Regions from separate parts of the Homo sapiens genome. Here region 1 is linked to region 2. The links come from fine-mapping of genetic effects on gene expression. A gene starts in region 2. The other region holds a variant in brackets. All regions are shown on one strand. Distances are between the middles of the regions.

Region 1 (5,367 bases), 24 kb before region 2:
AATTAGCTGGGCGTGGTGGTGCACGCCTGTAATCCTAGCTACTCCGGAGGCTGAGGCAGGAGAATCGCTTGAACTCAGGAGGCGGAGGTTGCAGTGAGCCGAGATCGCGCCACTGCACTCCAGCCTGGCGACAGAGCGAGACTCTATCTCAAAGAAACAAACAAAGCAACAACAAAAAACAGACTTCTAAGATAATGCTGCATTCTGAAATCCTTAACACTCAAAATCCCAGAAACCAAAGCAATTAAAACCCAGGGCAATACATATATGTATGCTGTTGGTTGAACTGGACCTAGTGAAAAGTTGTGGGCAGAGAGGACTACTTCTCTATGGTGCTCATGGCTATAGAGCCTTTGCTGGTTCCCCCATCCCAATTTTGGAGCTCCCTACTATACAACGAGCCTGGGCCTCTCACCCTGCCTCGGCGTCCTGGACATACCTGCAGAAGGGTGCCCCCTATATTCAGCCACCATTATCTCTATGCGTTCGGCTTCAGCACCCCCTCCCCAGACCATGGCCAGGCACAGGATGCGGGTCCTGCTCATCTCTGCGTTGCTGTGGGAGGGTGTATTTCCCGCACACCCAGTGTGTTCTAGAGAGGACCACTCAATGGAGAGATGAGCCCAAATCACCGAAGATGACCCTCTCCTGTAGAAAACAGGATTCAGAGAAGTCCATATTCCCCTCAGCGATTTCTCTCTCGCCAGCTCTTTGCAAACTTTCTCAGGTCCGTCTACACTAGTTGTCTCTGTTTCCTCACTCCACCCCCTGCTTCTTCTGAGCCTGCCTGGTTTGTGTTCCTGTCCCTGTACCAAGAGAGCTCTGATATGGCCACCTTGCAATGACATTCTTCAGCCCCCAGATGGCTGGAACCGCATCGGTGTTGGATGAGGGTGGCCACTCCCTCCTTCCTGGAGAGGTGAACTGGGGCTCCCTGGGTCTGGTTCCCACCTTCTGCCTGGCTCACACGTGGCCCCGGAGAGACCTTCTCTCTGGGAGTGGGGAGGCAAATGTCCCCTTGGGCACCCCCTGGAGGAAACATGCTGCGGCTAAGAGACATGACAAAGGATCCCAAATGAAGGGATGGGTTAGAGTCCCCAGGGCATCTTTAAGAGCCTTCTGGCCCAGAAAATCCTTTATTTTACGTCATCCCCTCACAACACTTTACGACTTCATTTAAAATGGCATAAAATTCCTCCTTGATCCTACTGTTCCCCTGGCAGAGGTGCCACAATTAAAAATTGTGATTTTTCTCTGTATTTACACCCAACAAGATTTTGTTCAGCATTACTTTCTACAGTTTTTCTATACCGTTTGAATATATACATATATATTTTCAAACTAAACAGCTTCTCTCCCCCTCAATCAAAGTTCACTCTGTAAGAGTGATGCCTCCACCATCCCAAATGATCATTCTTGTCCCAGACAGGACAAAAATTCTCTTGCCTGTCTCTTCCTTAGACATGGATGCAGATTCCAAGACATCAATTAAAAATATTAAGAACTTCATTCCCTTGAGCCCCTCCATGTGCCAGGCACTCTACCGAAGCCTTTTTTTTTTTTTTTTTTTTTGAGGGAGGGTCTCACTCCTGTCGCCCAGACTAGAGTGCAGTGGCGTGATCATGGCTCACCATAGCCTCGACTTCCCGGGCTCAGCTGATTCTCCCACCTCAGCCTCCCAAGTAGCTGAGACTACAGGCGTGTGCCACCATGCCCCATATTTTTTTTTTGTTTGTTATTTTTAGTAGAGTTTGGGTTTTGCCATGTTGCTCAGGTTGGTGTTGATCTCCTGGGCTCAAGTGATCTTCTGGGCTCAGCCTCCCAAACTGCTGGGATTATAGGCGTGAGCCACCATGCCAGGCCCATAGTAACTTTCTTATTTCTGACTTGGTTTTGGAAATAGGACACCCAGGCTCAAAAAGGTTAAGTGATTTGCCCAGGGCCACCCAGCAAGCAAAGCAGCAGAGCAAGGATTTGATTGTGGTCTGCATGAAGCCCAACCTCCTATGCCTGCAGAAAGTGGCCCCCTGCGTCCTGCCCTTCACCTCCTGCCTAAATATATGTCGAGGAGGCCCCAGAGAATTAAGAGGAAGCAAGGGTTACTCAGCAAATAGTTGTGAGATGGCAAGTTAGCTAAGTGGGAAAATATTCAAGCTAGACTCTCCGCTCACATTACACTATAAGGATAAGGCGTGACCCAGACACTCAAAGCGATGTATAGGAGCAGTTTTATATGAAAATTCATGCAATCCGCCATTGCTTAGTTA[C/T]TCAGCGTCCATTATTGACAGTCACTGGGCCTTGCACTGCAGATACATTGTTAACCTCAGATGTCATTTTTCCTTTTCTATTGTAGGAGAAATATACTACACAGAACCTTAACCAAGAGGTTGGCAGCCCTGAAAACTCCTCATTTCATTCATGTCACATGGTATGGATAAATCCATGCTCTTTAAAGAGAAGCAGAACGCCCATCCAGTGTGCCATGCTTTGCTCTTGAGTCTGCCTCGAGGGGACTTGAAAGACCCCTGCCTTCAACCAGGCTTTCTTCCCTCTCTTTTGTTCCCTTCCTGATGTACCCGCATTCAGACACAACATCCCTGTGAATGTCAGCTGCAGCCTCTTCGTGAGAGAATTTCTGGAGGGCACTCAATTTGGGGAGGACTTTGAAGTCACTTTTCTTCTGGGTATTTGATGTGTCCCCTTCCCCACCTGCCTGGTTCTAAGGCAACGGCCACTTCCTCTGCTCCAGCAGCCATGGTGGTTACCACTCAGGAAGCCTTGGTGTCAGATGGAAGGAGGATGGATGGGACCACCGGCAGAGGGGACTGGAGTTCTGGTTCCTGATGGGTTCTAGTTTTGCAGCCCTAGACCTCTCTCAGTTTTGATGTCCTCCTCTGTCAATTGGGGTTCCTGCTGTAGGATTAAAATAAGAAGGACTGGACAGAGGTGGATGTTAGTTGCAGTATTGTTGAAGGTGATGGCTACTGCCCTTTGGAAAGGAACAAACCAGTTGCTGCCTGTGGAGTTTGACAAGTCCCCTTGGAAAAGCTGTCCTTGGGTAAGTTGGTTTTGAAGAGTGCAGTCCATTAGGGAGAAATAAGAATCAGTGGAGGAGAGAAAGTGGAGCGTGCTAGCGTGGTAGAACAGGCACCTGCTGTTGCCCCTGCAGCTTTCATGGATGGAGTGCTGGGGGCCCGTTCAGAGCGGGGCCTGCTGGGGAGTGGACATGTGCATTTTTTTTTCTTCAGCACAAGAGGCACATCCGAAGATCACATGGCCAGGAGGTGGGCAAGGCCTGCCCACAATCCACGGGGCTGTGCAGGACTGAATCCCGACGGGACCCTGGCAGGGAGACCCTTGCAGTATGTCCCCATGTCTCCTGGAGCGGGTCCAACGGCACGTTCTCTCTGCTCTGTCAGTGACCTGAGCATGACCCTGAAGTACCCCTTAGGCCATAGACTTCCCGCCTCCTTCATCCTCTGGCAACACTTTCTCCGGGTTTTCTTTGACCTTCTCTTTCCCAGCCCCTCAGGATGCTGGGGTTGGTGTGAGTGTGCCCTTTGCACGCGCCGGTTTTCCAAACCCTGCTTCCATTGTCCCTCGGTGTCTGATCTGCCTCTGGACACCTCACTCCCGGCTCCAGTCACAGCACAACCTGGCTGCCTCCACACACCTCCCACCCACCTCCACCCCTTCCACCTGTCTCTCCCGGTGTCCTCTCAGGGAATGGCAGCCACCCCTAGTTCATTCAGAACCAGGGTGATGTCCACACTCCCCACTCTCCCTCACCACACCCCCACCCCCCCTTCAAGTGTCCCCCAGCCTCCAGATTTGAGCTCGTCCACCTGAGGGTGAGTGCCAGTGCCCTCATCCCTCTGCCATGAATCTCTCCTGTGCCTCCGTCTTATCTGCGATGTGCAGAGACTGCTGATCTGCCAGCCCTCCCTACACAGACACAGCTTTCCGAAATGCAGTGTGCCACATGCCTCTCTCTCCTTTAAACTCTTCAGTCTCTCTTACCGACCCCTGCAGCTTTCAGAATGAGGTTCAGATCCCTTAGCATGGCACAGAGACCCTTTCTGAACTGCCCCTTCAGCCTCATCTTCTTTTCCACACATCCACCTCCTACCAAGGGGCAGTTTCTGGAATGCGTGACTCAGTTCACAAGCCTGTGTCTTTAAATATCGTGCCCTCTCTCTGGAATCCCTTGTTCTATTTTTCATTTGCTGACTTCAGAGTTTATACACTGCCAGCCCTGGGTCATATCTAGCCTAAACATGTGTTCAGGGGCTTGCATGTTCGACCTTTTTAAAATCAGAGGCTACTGTTTAAAACTCAAGAGACTAGTCGTTATAAAATATCCTCATTTCTGGCTCCTTCTAAACAGTCAGAAGATCTGGTAACAGTGAACCATAGTCATTGCTGGAGTTGGGAAGTATCTGTGTCCTCTTGTTGTGGGGGCGGGGTGGGGGGTGTATATGCTACATTTTTCTACAGCCCACACTACTCCCTACTGTCTTACACTGAGCGTCATCACTTATATCTGTGACTTGCCTGGACCCTAAAGGCATTTGGGTTTAAGATCCCTAGACTCGTCCTATCAATTAGCAAAATTCAGCTCATGTCACTTTCTCCACAAACTTCCCTGACTCAGAAACCCCTCCCGTGCCAGGTACATTAGGACTGCAGGCCCTAAGGAAATGGCAGAGGTGCTAGTTTCTTGCCTCTTCTCAGTCTCAGCTGACCAGATCCTTATTGATAAAATCAAGCAGAAGCAGTAGGAGGAACACCCAGGGGCATGGTCATTTTCTCCCTGTAATGTTCAGAAACAAAAGCTTAGGAGAAGGAAATTCAGGAGTTCTATGCTTCCTAAGACACTTGATGAGGCTGCTTCCTGGGCTTGCTGAGGACCAACAGATAGAATAGGAAGAGGAAGCCAGCCCTGGCCTCTGGAAGGGTAACAGCCCCAGGTGTCTTCAGGCATCAGCCATGACCTCCGTCCCCACTTTTCCCAGCCATGCTCTTTTAGGAGCCCAGGGCTCTGGGGAGGAAAGGGGGCGGAGGAGAGGTTCTGCCTCTTGGGTCCTCCCTGTGAGCCACTTCCTGATTGGCTAGGGGAAAGCCCAAATATGTGTTCAGGGTGGAAGAAATTAACTCCAGCCATGTTGACTTAGGGCATGGGAAATGGCTGCGTCCAACTAATGCCACGATAGCTTGTGGTGGGTACGGGTGGGGTGGTGACGGGTCATAGAGAGGATGGTGGCCCCAGGGATGTGACCAGCTTGATGCTAGAATCAGGTGACTGGATGCAAGCATGAGAAGAACCTTGCTCGGATGGATGGATGTTGAGAAGAGTAATCATTACCA
Region 2 (5,367 bases):
GTTGGGATTCCCATGCTCTGCCCATGTGTTTACTCCTCCAGCCATGGTGAATCCCAAAATATGCCTCCATTCCTCTGGATTAAACATGTGTGGGGCTGACCGTGGGTGGGGCAAGAGTGCCCATCCCAGTCGAAAGGCATATGCAGTGTTGACCTAAGGCAGCTACATCAGCCTGGGAGAGAGGGTGTCTTAGGCCTGGTCAGGACTGGTCAAGCCAGTGGTCAGCCTGGGACGAGAGGCAAGAGAGGGAAGGAAGATGCCACAGGAGGTGACACATCGTACTTGTTTGACCGTTTTTTCCTAGGATTGGCCCAGCAGAGACAGGATAAAAAGAAGCAGGGAGCACTCAAGTGAGACAAGTCCCCGGGGTGCGTACATATATGGGAACAACCTGATGTGGGGAGCGTAGGCTTCACCGTGCATTTGGCAAGAAAGTGCAACATTATGTGCAAAGTGATCTCCTGATTGCATTTTAAAAATTAAAAGTTCCCAGCATGTGGAAGGTATTTGGTAAGAATTCAGTGAATGGCTGACCTAGGGGTGCCTGGATAAGCACAGCACTTATGTTTTTATAACAGGACAATGGGCAGCGCCGGGCCTTCCCTCTCACATGGGCAAAGGTCAGCAAGTGATCTGAGCCGGGCAGTGCCCACATCCGGAATCAGAAGCCGGAGAGCCTAGAGGAAGGCCCTCCTCACCGCATCTTCCATTACCCCAAGACGTGACTTGCCCGATTTCCTTTCCAATCCACGTTTCTGAGGCGAGCAGCTATGAAAAGTAGCATGTTTATCTCTGCGTGGGAATTGGTGGCACGTTGTGTATTAACTGCGCAGCATTTGTGAAAGTTTTCAGAGCTCTTGGGGAAACCGAGAATGAGAGGAGAAAGAGGCAGGGAGAGGGGTTCTGGAAGCCCAGCGGAGTTCACAGAAGGAATTCCAGGGAGATGGGCAGGGGCAGGGAGAAAATGAGAGCAGGAAGCGGCACTTGTCACAAGTTTTTGTCCTTGGGGCCTCGGCATCCCGCCTGGGCCCAGGACTGGCATCTCCCATTTGAGGGACTGACAGTGTGGCGGACCCTCAACTAGCACAGATAACAAATGAAGTAACAAATGGGACAAAGGAGGGGCGCACGCGGCGCGGGACTCGAGAAGAGCGCCTGGCAGAGCACAAATCCCACAGAAGAAGAGACCTTCTGCCCTCTTTGAGACCTCACCTTCCCCTTGCCCAGGGCCAGGAAGCTCTCCTCGGGCCTCCTCAGAACCCCGGCTGCCTCCCCACCTGTCGTCTACCGCCCTTTGGAGGTTCCGGAGAGGGGCCCGGCCCGGCGAGCCGAAGGCTGCGGGGCGGGGCGCGAGTCTCAGCCCCTGGGACACACAGCCGGTGCGTCCCGCGCCTCAAGTGCGCACTCCAGGAAGTCCGGAGCCGGGAGGATCCGGGCTCGCGGTCCCACCCTACCTCTGGCGAGGTCGGGAGAAAAAAAGCGCCAGATCGCCCGCCTGAGGGCCCAGAAGCCCACCGGGCGGCGGTACAGACTTTCCCGAAATGTCTCCGTCTCCGCGCTGCGAGCGCACAGGAACCCAGGGTCGCCGGGGTTGCCGTGGCTTGGCTGAACGTCCAAAGCCAGGCGAGGGCGGGGGGTCTCAGTCCAGCTATGCGAGCCCTTCTCTAGTGGTGCCAGCTCCTACGCCGGGCTCCCGGGCCGGCGGGAGGCGCGTGTGCCTGTCTGTGTGTGCAGGGGACATTCCGCTTCCCAGTAGCCCATGCAGAACCCCGCCCTCCGCTCCGGCCCCAGGAACCCCTCCCCCAGCTCAGAGATCCCTGCGCGCCCCCTGCCCACTTTGCCAAGGCGAGAAAGCGGCCGTGCTGGAGACAAAGAAACTCCTGCCTCCCTCCACTCTCGGCCCCTCCGCCCGCCCGAGACACTCCCCGGCGCCCTCCCTCGACCCCGGCGACACTGCGCTTGGACACGCCAGGCAGGGGGGCAGGGTGGGCGAGTCCGCTTCCCGACGCGGGCCAGCTGGGGGCTTCCCGTGAACCCCGCCCGGGGACACCCCACAGCAGCCGCGCCCCCACCCTCCTCTCCCCAAACCGTCCCGGGCCCCTGTCGCCGCCACCTTCTGCCAAACCGTCCCCATCTCTCCAGCGGAGCTACAGCGGGGCGCGGCGCACACAAAGGGGGTCGGAGGGTGGAGAGTACAGAAGGAGGGAGAGATCCCGCCAGGGCTCGTGGCACGGGCCTGGGAGCAGCTATTTACCCGATTTCTTCTTCGATCTCTGAGATGTCTGCGAAGATGAGGAAGACCACGAGCAGCGTGAGCGCGGCCAGCATCCAGCTCCGGAACTGCAGCTGCATGGTGGGTTCGCGCCCGCCGGGACCCACGCGGGCCGGCGCGAGGAGCAGGGGCCGGAGGGCGCAGCGGCGGACGCCGGAGCCTCCGCGCGCCGCGCGCAGCTGGGCAGACACCCTGCGCTCCGGACGAGTCCGGGCCGGCGGCGGCAGCGGCAGCGGCAGCGGCAGCGACAGGCAGGGGTTGCTCAGGCGCGGCGAGCCCGCTCGCTCCCTCCCGGCTCCCGCCTGCCCCTCCCTCCCTCCTCTCCCTTCCCCCGCCCCGCGCCCGGCTCCGCGCGCAGTTTGACAGCTTTGCTCCGCGCCTCTGCTCGCCTCCTCCCACCAACTCCAGCGTCCAGGCGCTAGCCTTTGCTTCTCCCGCCTGGCTTTATTCAGCTCCCGAGGGCGCGGGGATGCAGCCGGACGCCACTCCTGGCCTAGAGAGACTGGGCTCTGGCCACCGCGAGCGACCGGGTACGGAGCTGAGCCCAGGGAAGTGCGCGCACCGCCCGGCGCACCCCTCAGGCTGGCAAACGCCCTCCCTCGCCCGCTCTTTGTCCAGCTCCCTCGCCTCCTCGCAAAGTTTTCTCGACACAAAGACCAACACCTGGGGACAGCCCCCAGCGCGCGGCGAGAAGGCGGTTTCAGCCAGGCAGATGTTTCAGCAGTTGATGAATTAGGAGGGGAGGTGGGGGAAGGGGAGGAGAGAAGAAATATCCAAGACAGGCCAACTTCAGTGAAGATGCTGACTACAGTTTGTGGGCGAGGCTCTCAGCCCTCGAGAAACCACTCCCTCCAGGTGCTGATCTTTATCTCCATTTATAGACCCGATACTGGGTCGGGAGAGCTCTCCGAGCTGCCCCCAGATCACGCAGTCCTGGCTGGAACCCTCGGCTAGAACCCCAATGGGAGACTCAGCGCCCGCCTTCCCTCCGCCCTCGCGGTGCTGACGCCGGGTGGCCTTCATCTCCCCAGTTCTTGGACTCTCAATGACCCTAAGATCAATAACCGCGGGAGGCCTGTCTTGATCAAAATGCCTTCTAGAAAAATATGGCTCCCACAAGGGGTAATGCCCCCCACCCTTCCGAATATTGTACACTTTCACAGCCTTAGACAGTTTAAGTCAAATTACATTTCACACCAACCATTGGCCAGGGGTGGGAAGGGCCCCATTAAGTTTTACTGGAATTAGATAATTACCTTTTATTTTCTTTGCACGAATTGGAACAATTCCTGAAATTAAGAAATGTAACTTTCCAGAAATGATCATCTGGTTTATGAAAGGGTCCTTTGGGTTTGAGTGTGGGGAGGAGGAGTCCTGTTGGAGAAGCTACATGGAATGTCCTAAGTGCTGGAAACCACACCCCAGTGAATGGGAGGGGCGTGTCGGCCTTATCCCCTGGACCACTCAGAGGAGTTTGGCGAGGGGCTGGCAGCAGCCAAGTCCCTTCATGGCGCCCCCGGGGATGTAAGAGGGCCTTCTGATTTTCTACCAAAGTACTGCTTGTGCCCAGAGCCCTTCTGCCCCTTCGTGTGTAAGGAGGGGCAGGAGGGAGGCTTCCAAGCCGGGGGCTGCTGCCCTTGTTGACCCTGGGAGCCAGGGCAGGCTCTCCCCTGCAGGAAGAGGTCCCATCACCCAGCCTGGAGAATGGATTAGGGAAGCAGCACAGCGTCAAGGGAGAGCTCTGCCTCACCTCCTTTGAGGAGTGCCAGGAGCAGATGTCTTTTCCCCAGAGGAAGCGTGTACTAATTCCCACCTCAGCGCTTCATTTCCTTCCCATTCCTTGGCGAAGTCAGCGCACCCTGCTCCTTTTACAGTAAGCACTTCGAAAATACCATGTATTTTTCTTGGGGTGAGGTTTTTCTGATGTGGAGAACAATGTTGGACGTCACTCTCCCTGTCTGTTAGAGGCAGGGATGAGACGTCAAAGGAGAGTTTCCCATCAGTGTGGCTGGCACGGGGTCTAACCATCCTTATTTCAAGTTTTCAAAATGCCAAAATCTTTCCCTTTGTCTTGCTTGAAGGGTGGTTTAGGAGGTGTGGAGTGGTTTTTGTCATCATTTTGCCTTGTTTTTCTGAAGGGAATGGTTGGGATACCTGAATAGGGAGAGGAAAGTACAGGATGCGCCTGGTATGCTGCTCTGTATTTGAATCGCTCCTCCACTCACTCCAACGTGCAGCAATATTTAACCTACCTTGTACCAGGCTCTGTGCTAGGAGCTAGAGACACCAAGTGGAGAGAGACACCTCGGGTTTCCTGCCCTCTAGTGGCTCACTGTTCACAAGGGAGACAGACATTCAGGTGTCTAATTATGATAGGGGATTTGAGCTGCAGTAGACCTAAGGTCTCCTGGCTCACTTATAATTGATTAATAAGATCCCCCAAAAGAGCAAGAAGAAACTGACCTTTCTCTCCTCTGTTCTCTGCTTCTCTGCTTCTCTACCTACTGCACTCTTACCATGCAGAACATCATGGAAGTGTTGCCGTGGTACTAAATTCACCAGGTCGGGTCAACCTCATTGCTGCAAGCACAATTACAACAGAGTCTATTTCCATTTCCTGTTAGGTGACCCACGATTACAGCAGAATCTATTTCCGTTTCCTGTTAGGTGGCCCATGTTCTCATCCCAGGCTCAGTCTTCCTTCTTTGCACCCACCAGACCAGAGTCATATGAGTGGACAGGAAACAGTGGAAGCTTTTGTTGAATGGTTCGATTCCATATAGAGAGATCCCTGTAATCAGACCCACAGAGCAATATCTCTCAAGTATACCTGCTCGGAAGTAGAGCTAGCTTCCTCACATAGACGCTGTCCTTGCGATGAGAGTCACTGAAGTGGGATTTTTCTTGGAGGGTGATGGGGGACCCTTGTGATCGTTGACTATAGAATACCTGCTATCTGTGATCACTTAGGTTTGGGTCTCGTTGGGCCAGCTCCTTTAACAAGTGATTGTGTACATACACCACCCGTTGCTGCCTCTGCAAAAATGAGTTTGTTCCTGGAATCTGGAAAGAGGAAGACTGATGAGATTGGTGGA

Alleles and levels. Alleles are on the strand shown, and positions count from the first base shown. SD is a standard deviation of normalised expression in the study named.
With allele C in place of T in region 1, the expression in subcutaneous fat of the gene that starts at base 2,536 in region 2 is lower (small effect, 0.31 SD a copy in GTEx).

The links. PIP is the estimated chance that this variant, and not a neighbour inherited with it, causes the effect. A credible set is the group of variants that fine-mapping cannot tell apart.
Region 1: its variant is the best candidate, but not a certain one, in a credible set for the expression of ST8SIA2 in subcutaneous fat (GTEx, PIP 0.59).

Annotation. Positions count from the first base shown.
Region 1 is chr15:92,414,668-92,420,034 of GRCh38, reverse strand. The region is part of intron 1 of ST8SIA2 (ST8 alpha-N-acetyl-neuraminide alpha-2,8-sialyltransferase 2); the gene reads right to left. It also overlaps the pseudogene LOC124903615. Among named protein-coding and RNA genes, the nearest start is that of ST8SIA2, 23 kb to the right of the region's middle. The variant C/T (reference allele first, on the strand shown) is at 2,268.
Region 2 is chr15:92,391,050-92,396,416 of GRCh38, reverse strand. It overlaps ST8SIA2 (ST8 alpha-N-acetyl-neuraminide alpha-2,8-sialyltransferase 2), which reads right to left and starts at 2,536. Exons shown (of 6, transcript NM_006011.4): 1 at 2,255-2,536. The coding sequence starts at 2,352.